2 linked regions of the Homo sapiens genome follow. The protein of the gene in region 1 interacts with the protein of each later gene in a biochemical or structural test. Each region holds a gene or a part of one and is shown on either strand. Other genes may lie near its edges. The genes, in order: ZCCHC14 and TENT4B.

Region 1 (3,600 bases):
TGGCGTGCACGCGAGCCCGCGTCCCGTCGGGTTTTTGCTCTGCTCTGTGGACGGCTGCCTCGTCTTCCTGCCTTTAGTTGAGCGTTTCATTCCTACTGGCCTGGTTTTCATTTCAGAGAACTCTTGGGCTCTGACAGTTGTTTTTTCATAGCATCCTGTTCTCGGATATGCCTTCTTCTCTTAGCTTAGTAAGAATATTGATGAAAATTTTTTAGTTTTCTTAGAGTCCACGCTTTCCCTTGGCTGCTGTGTTCTCCTTGCTGGCTTTGCCTGTCTCTGTGCTGGGCCTTGGCTCTCCTCAGGGGTCTCCAAAGGTCTGGGGGATCCTGGGCTGCCTGTCCCCTTAGGGGTGTGGCTGAGCCCTGCCCCCAGAGGTGCCTGGCTGAGCCTTTTCTTGTGCAGAATGAGGCCGCATGGCTCCAGTGGCTCTGGAGGGGGAGGCTGTGTGGAAAAACACTGATGTTCAGAGCCAGTCCACAGTGAGCCGGAGGAACTAGACCCTGCGTGTGAGGACATCCTGAGCATGCACGGGCTGTGTGCACATTGGGCTTTGGGGTGTGATGAAGATGCATTACAATTCGTCCAGATAAGGCTAAGTAGCTTTTCAGGGACGTGATAGAAGATGCTGTGCCAGAATCTAATTGGCAACACTTTTTCTTGGTGAAATGTAAAGTAATGGGGTAGCTGGTTGTGGATGCTTGTGAGTATGGTTGGACACGTGTCCCCATAGTACGGGTCAGGCAGGTATGACAAGAGGATGCTCTTCCCGCCCCCATGCCCCTCTAACGGCCGGTTCCCCTTCTGGCTCTCTGGGGCAAGTCGGCAGGTGAGGTAGAGGGCTTGGCTGGGTCTGGATCGTGGCTGCTGCAGCTTAGCCATCAGCCAGCATCACCTGCAGAGCGAGCGACATGGGCTGGTCTCCGCCTGACTGTGCGGTCTCTGTTTCCAGTGCTCACTTTCTGATAGCCTTAGGGAGGAATGTGAGCTGCACCTGCAAGTCAGAGAAAAATGTATCCGAACACAAAGTAGAAGAGTCCTGTGTAATTAAAGTGCATAACTGTTGGAAAAGCAGATTGTCTGTTTCAACATAAGATGATCTGTCCATACCATGTTTAATCGCTGGGGTGGTGGATTTCACATCTTCCCTGGGTTAGGGCGCAGTAGGAAAGATACAGCCTAGAGGCAGGTGTGAGAGCTGTGCAGAGGAGACGTTTTCTATGACACGCTTTACCTTGAAAGAGACACGCTGTCAGCAGCGCGGGGGACAGCCATCTTCACGGCAGGGGTTTGTGTCTGTTGGTGGTGGTGTTCTTGGAGTTCTGTGTGGGGAGCAGCTTAGGAACCTCTCCCCAAGATTTTTGGTGTTGAGAGATTTTAATATTTAAGGCAGAGAAGGAGCTCAAACATTTTCTTTTCTTTTCTTTTCTTTCTTTCTTTCTTTTTTTTTTTTGATAGAGTTTCGCTCTTGTTGCCCAGGCTGGAGTGCAATGGCGCGATCTCGGCTCACTGCAGCCTCCCCCTCCCGGGTTCAAGCAGTTCTCCCACCTCAGTCTCCCAAGTAGCTAGGATTACAGGCGCCTGCCACCATGCCCGGCCAATTTTGTATTTTTAGTAGAGACGGGGTTTCTCCACGTTGGTCAGGCTGGTCTTGAACTCCTGACCTCAGGTGATCCGCCCACCTCAGCCTCCCAAAGTGCTGGGATTACAGGTGTGAGCCACTGCGCCCGGCCTCAAGCATTTTCATTTTAGGTGTGGAAGATTCTGGGTGGCAAGGTGCACGCCTTGCAGCCGTTAGTTCCAGGGACGCTGCTGCTTGCCTTGATGAATTCTGGTAGGCACTGGGGTTCTGGTGAAGAAGAGGTGGCCCTTTCCTCGACTGGCCTGTGTATTATGAGGGCGTGATGAAACAGACCCAGGAGTGACGCTACGTGATGTGACGAGACTGGCCTCAGTTTCAGCAGGCAGGAGGGTGGACACCTCGGGGACTAGACTGCAGGCCCATGGATGTGGGTGTGGGTGTGGGTGAGGGAGCAGAGGTGGTTTGGGTGCCTGTGAGCTCTCTTTGCTCTAAATCAGTGTTAATACAGCGTTTTCTTTTGCATAATGTATTTGGTCATTTTATTTGCCGACTTGAAATCCCCCAGCTTCTTGTGGACTTGAGTGCAATTTGCATTTGGTGCTTGTCCCTTCCTGACCTGGCCTCCTCCCTGTCATTTCAGGCCATCCCCTCTGTCCATCTCAATCCTGTAGCTAACTTCTTATTTGCCTTTCAGAAGTCAACCCAAGCTCTTCTCCATGCAGAAACTCCCTCTAATGTGCAAAAAGTACGCTCTCCTTCCCCCTCAGTCAGCTTTGTTTAGCACCTCATGTGACGAGCATTGTGATAGCCAGGGGAGAGCTGAGCAAAAAGACACCGCCCCTTCCCCCCTGGAGCTTAGCGTGCATGTGGGGAGATGGACCTCCGTGGAGCCATGCAGTGACACCGCCCGCTGCTGCATGCTGGGAAGGAAAGCTGATGCTCACAAGGGCTGGGCACACCAGACGTTGCAGAATCTCCTCCAGAAAGCCCTTTTCACTGCTCTTCCCCAGCAGTGATCACTGCTGCCCTAGTGATCACTGCCCTGTCCTGTTGCTATCAATGGACTCACACTGTCCCCACAGCTCTGCAGTGTCCTGAGAGCAGGGCCTGGGCTCACTGTGTGCCCACAGCACCTGGGCGGGCGCACCACGGGCCCTTACCGGTGGTCGAAGGGCTGCTCTCTGGGAATGTGTCGCTCTTGCATCTGAGGCACATAGGCTCACTTAAGAAGAGGAGGTCCCCTGAGGAAGTTGAACAGGGCACACACAAGCAATTGTCAGGGATTTTCTAGAACTTACAGGAGGCAGCTGTAGACCCCACTCTGGAGTAATTTGGTGATATCTGAATAATTGCATAAAACAAGTTAGACTTTAGAGGGCCTGGAGCTATGTGACTCTTCTTTCTGTAACAAGTCAAGGGATGCTTAGGTGCTTCCCACAGCAGGTGCACGGCCCACTGGGCTCAGCTGCCGACTGAACGTGTGCCCCAGTCGTACCAGGACACGTGCTGGGAACCAAGTATGTGGTGTCTGTTTCTAAGGTTTGTTTGTTTGTTTGTTTTTAAGGTCTTGTGGTCTGATTCTTCAATAACATCAGTAACCAAATCTTCCTCTGAAGTGACGGAATTTATTTCAAAGGTAAGGTAATCAAGGGCTCTTATAAAAATTAAAAGAATCACATTCCCCAGTGGCTGATGATACCACGGAGTAATTTCAGAGGCCACTCCCTTCAGCTAGCGAGTGAGCGTGCGCAGGGCGGGGCCTCCTGCCCAGCCACAGTGGAGTCCCAGGCCCGCTGCTGACATGAGCGTTGCTGCGAGCACAGGTCCGTGACCCCGCGGATGCCTCCTTCACTTGTTGAGACTGAGATGAGGCTGAGAGATGCGCCGGGCATGAGCGACTGATGAGGACATTTGGTTTCTTTTGTTACTTTTCAGTCCCCCAGGTTTCCTTGGCAAAGGCTGGGGGAGAGAGGCATGCTCAGGTGGCTGAGTGGGTAGAGACTTCACCTAGTTCTACCTTT
Region 2 (4,106 bases), about 37 Mb from region 1:
GCAGATGGAACCCACCAACTCATTTTATCCAGACCTTCAAAAAGGTACACAGAACTCTCTCTCTCAGCCAAAGCAGGGCAGATCTGAATGAATAAATCCAGGAAAAGGTTCACATGGGATTACTAATTGGTAATTTCATTTGCATGCTAAAGCCCTCAATGTAAAACACAACCTGAAAAATGAAAAGCAATTTGAAAGCCGGTTCTCCATACTCAAGCTACACACACACACACACACACACACACACACACACACACACCCACGAGACCCAAAAGCTTTGTTTTACAAAACAAATAAGATTCAGTGACCTATTCCAGCACAGGGACTCTTCTGAAGGGAGATCTAGTTGGAAACATTCCCTGCTTATGTACATAATTCACTAGGGGTCAGGTAAGATTCCATTTTCTAAGAGCTGAACTTTAAACAGAAAGTCACTAGTGGTGCAATATTCACTCATTAGCATAAATCTCTACCCCCTAGAATGAAAAGCATTGGCTGCCTCTGCCAGGATGACAACTTTACAGTGAGAAGCTGGAGCCGCGGACCATGAACTCCTGGAAAGTTCTATCAGGGCCTCAGAAGGGCTCACCACCTTCACCAGCCTAAACTTAGTGGTCACCCATCCCACGCCACCCTCTGCATAGACAGGGCATCTGTGACATGGGAATTTTTTAAAAATAAAAAGATGGGCCAAAGGGTCAAGAGCAGGCAATGCCTTACAGGGCTGACATAATTGCTGTCTGGGATTGGGGGATGGGGAGGAGCATTCTGGATGTTTCTATTCTTGGCAAGGAAAGCACCTCCGGGTCCTGCACCATCAAAAAACACTCACACACCAATGTTCTCAGGGAATGAATGATAGGCCCGTGCTAAGCGGTCTCATCTTGAGTTGTGATGATGGGGAAAAAGGTGTGGAGGGCTGGAGGCGGGGTGGTGGTCAAGGGTAGATGTGTTTAACTAAGGGGGATGGGAGGAGAGTGAATGGATAAAGGGGGGGGCCTGGGGAAGGTGTGGACGGTTAAGAGGGAGGGGAGGAAGGTGTGGACGACTAAGGGAGGACAGGAGACGGAGGGTGTGGACGGCTAAGGAGGCTTGGGGAAAGGTGTGAACGACTGGGGGGTTGGGGATGGCCAGCAGCACCCCCGTGCAACAGCAGCGAAGGCAGGCCGTGGGGGTGGCCGCTCCTAGACCCTCACAACCCCCCTCTGTGGGCGTGTGCCCGGCTGCGCATTCGCACCGGCCAGGCCATCGGGCCGCAGAGCCAGCACTCACCCCACGACTCCCTGGTTGTAGTTCCTCCGTTTCCACGGGGTCCCGCTGTACACGACCCCGCCGCCGTCTGCTCGGCCGCCCCCCGCGGCCCGCCCTCCGCTGGGCTGCAGCAGGCTGTAGTTGAGTCCATACGTGCTGGCCTTGTTGTCGCGCTTCCTCTTGTTGCTGCTGCCCGAGGCCGAATCGGCTGGATCGGCGGCGGGGACGGCGGCCGAAGGGTGCGGGGACGAGGACGCCGAGGGAGGCGAGGACGCCGAGGAGCCCGCCCGGCGGGCCCAGGCCCCGGGCTGGTGGTGGTTGTTGTTGTTGTTGGTCGTCTCTAGGGGCAGGAAGTCCCGCTGCTCCGCGGGCAGCGCGTGGCTGCCCAGCAGGCGCTCCCCGGAGCGATACATGCCGGCCGGGGCCGGGGCCGGGGCCGAGGCCGCGCCGCCGGGGCTGCCGGTGCTGCTGCCGCTCCCGCCGGTGGCCGTGCTGCTGCTGCTGCTGCTGCCGCCGCCGCCGCTCGCGCCGCCGCTGCTGTGACAGTGGTGGTTGAAGTAGAGGTTCCTCAGCCCCTGGGTCGTCTCCCAGATCTGCATCCACAGACTGTTGGACGGTCCGAGCTGCTCTGGCTGAAACCAGGCGATCCTCGGATCCATCAAACGGCGGCGGCCGCTGCCCCCGCCCCTCCCGGCCGCCCGCAGGGCCGCCGCCGCCGCCGCCTCAGGCGCACGCCCGGCCTCGGCTGCTGCTGCTGCTGCCGCTGCTGCCGCTGCTGCTGCTGCTGCTGCTCGGGGCCCGCCGCGGGCGGCGCGGTCGCGCAGGGAGCCCGGCCGGCGCCGGCGGCGTCGCTCCCGCCCTCGGGGGCTCCGCGGGCCCTCCCCCCCTCCCTCCGCCCCTCCGCCCCTCCGCCGAGCCCCTGTCACTGGGGTCCCCGTGCAAATGGCGGCGGCGGCGGCGGCGGCTCCACAGAAGAGCGAGCGGCGGCGGCGGCAGCGGCGGCAGCGAGACGCGCCTGCTCCGTAGCGTCCTCGCTCCTCCGGCCCCGGGGCGGGGCCTCTGCCGGCTCCGCCCCTCTCGCTCCGCCCCCCCCCCCCACCGCCCCGCCCTCACGCGCTCGCCCCGCCCCCGCTGCGCCGCGCAGCAGCCCGGGAGGCCTCGCCGTGCGTCACAGAGGCCGCGGCGCGACGGGGCCGCAACCGCCTGGCCCAACCGTACTTGCGCCATCTGTGGAGTGCTCCCACGTACCTGGGCGTCCGGGAGCTTCTGAGGCGCGCGCGGCTTCTCCGCCTCGGCTTCCCCGGTGCTGAGCGTGGACGAGGCCGCATGGAGGTTGCCGCCCGCCCCGCAGGGAGCGCGTTGTGGGAGGTGCCACTCCGCCCCTCGCTCCTCGCCCCTCCCATCCCTGTGGCCGCCGGATCCCGGGCCCTCGCAACCCTTCCTGACGTCTTGGCTTCTGCCTGCTTTCTAAAACACTTTCTTTTTAAAAAAAAAAAAAAAAAAAAAAACAGCCTATAACACTTTTTCTGGTGGCGTGGGGACACGCCCCCTGCCCGAGCGTGTGCCCCGGGGTCCTGACGCGGGCTGCGCGAGACCCTGCACGGCTACGTGTGCCCCGCCCTGCTGCGCCCTGGCCGGGGTGGGGGACCCCTCACCCCGGCCTGAGGCCACAGAAACCTGTACCCCATGCATAGCCCTGGGGGAGACCACTAAGACTGAGAGTGTGAGCCAAGGGCGGAAAGCCGCAGCCGCACACTCAACCCACTTTACAGGGACACGCAAACACGTGTAGATGCACAGAGAAGCAGACACACTCCTGCGCGGCGTAGCAAAGACGCTCTCCTGCCCTAAGGTGCACCAACAGCCTTAGAAAGCTCTTCTGAGTTCAGCATTAAATTTTAAGAAAACCCAAAACCTTTTAATCCTAAAATGAAGATTTAGCATCAGCAAAGATTGTCCACTAGGTCGTTATTTGCATGTCTTTCAAATCTCAGTGGTTAAAAAGCCAAGGAAAGGGGAATGTTAAGTATTTTAAATCAAGAGACTAAAAGAAAGTAAGTGAACAGCTTCTATGTGGGCCCTTTAAGGTTGGTCCAACGTCCAGAACAAGTCCCTGATGCCTGATATTGGCCTTCCATTTTGGGAGCTCAATATCCTGGAAAGTTTTTATGACAAATAGTGGAAAACTATCAAAGAACTAAGTGTCGCTCTACCTTTTTCTTTCTTTCGAGACTAACTCTTGCTCTGTCATCTGGAGTTCAGTGACTCATTCACAGCTCACTGCAGGCTCGGCCTCTTGGGTTCAAGCGATCCTCTTGCCCCAGCCTCCGAGTAGCTAGGACTATAGGCACGCGTCAACATGGCATAGAGACGAAGTTGCTCTGCGCTGCCCAGGCTGGTCTGGAACTCCTGGACTTAAGCGATCCTCCTACCTCAGACTCCAAAACTGCTGGGATTACAAGGGGGTGAGCCACCACGCCTGACCTTACTTTTTTTTTTTTTTTTGGTAAGAGAATAAATAGCACGACCAGAAATACGGAAAACACACAAAGACCCTTCAGCTGCAAACAACAGCTTCCTTGGTAGTTTATGCAGCCTGTTTCTTGTATGGGCTGCTCTAAGGGACCATGGAGACAGGCCTTTCAGATGTATGTTCATGTCTTTGACCTTGCACTACGCCAATGTAGGCTCCAGGCAGATATTCGAGGTGCCTTTGAAAAGCTCCAGGGCACTGTGGCCAGGGTTCACATTGGCCAAGTTATCATGTCCATCTGCAACAAGCTGCAGAATAAGGAGCATGTGATTGAATCCCTGCTCAGGGCCAAGTTCAAGTTCCCTGGCTGCCAGAAGATCCA

The links.
Region 2: the proteins of ZCCHC14 (region 1) and TENT4B form a complex in vitro, tested with the Homo sapiens proteins (one study listed by BioGRID).

The regions. Positions count from the first base shown.
Region 1 is NC_000016.10:87,423,425-87,427,024, reverse strand, and holds part of ZCCHC14 (zinc finger CCHC domain-containing protein 14), read left to right. Parts: intron 1-3,143; coding exon 3,144-3,215; intron 3,216-3,600.
Region 2 is NC_000016.10:50,151,426-50,155,531, reverse strand, and holds the start of TENT4B (terminal nucleotidyltransferase 4B), read right to left. Parts: upstream 2,227-4,106; 5' UTR 1,911-2,226; coding exon 1,273-1,910; intron 1-1,272. UniProt on the Homo sapiens protein: Terminal nucleotidyltransferase that catalyzes preferentially the transfer of ATP and GTP on RNA 3' poly(A) tail creating a heterogeneous 3' poly(A) tail leading to mRNAs stabilization by protecting mRNAs from active deadenylation.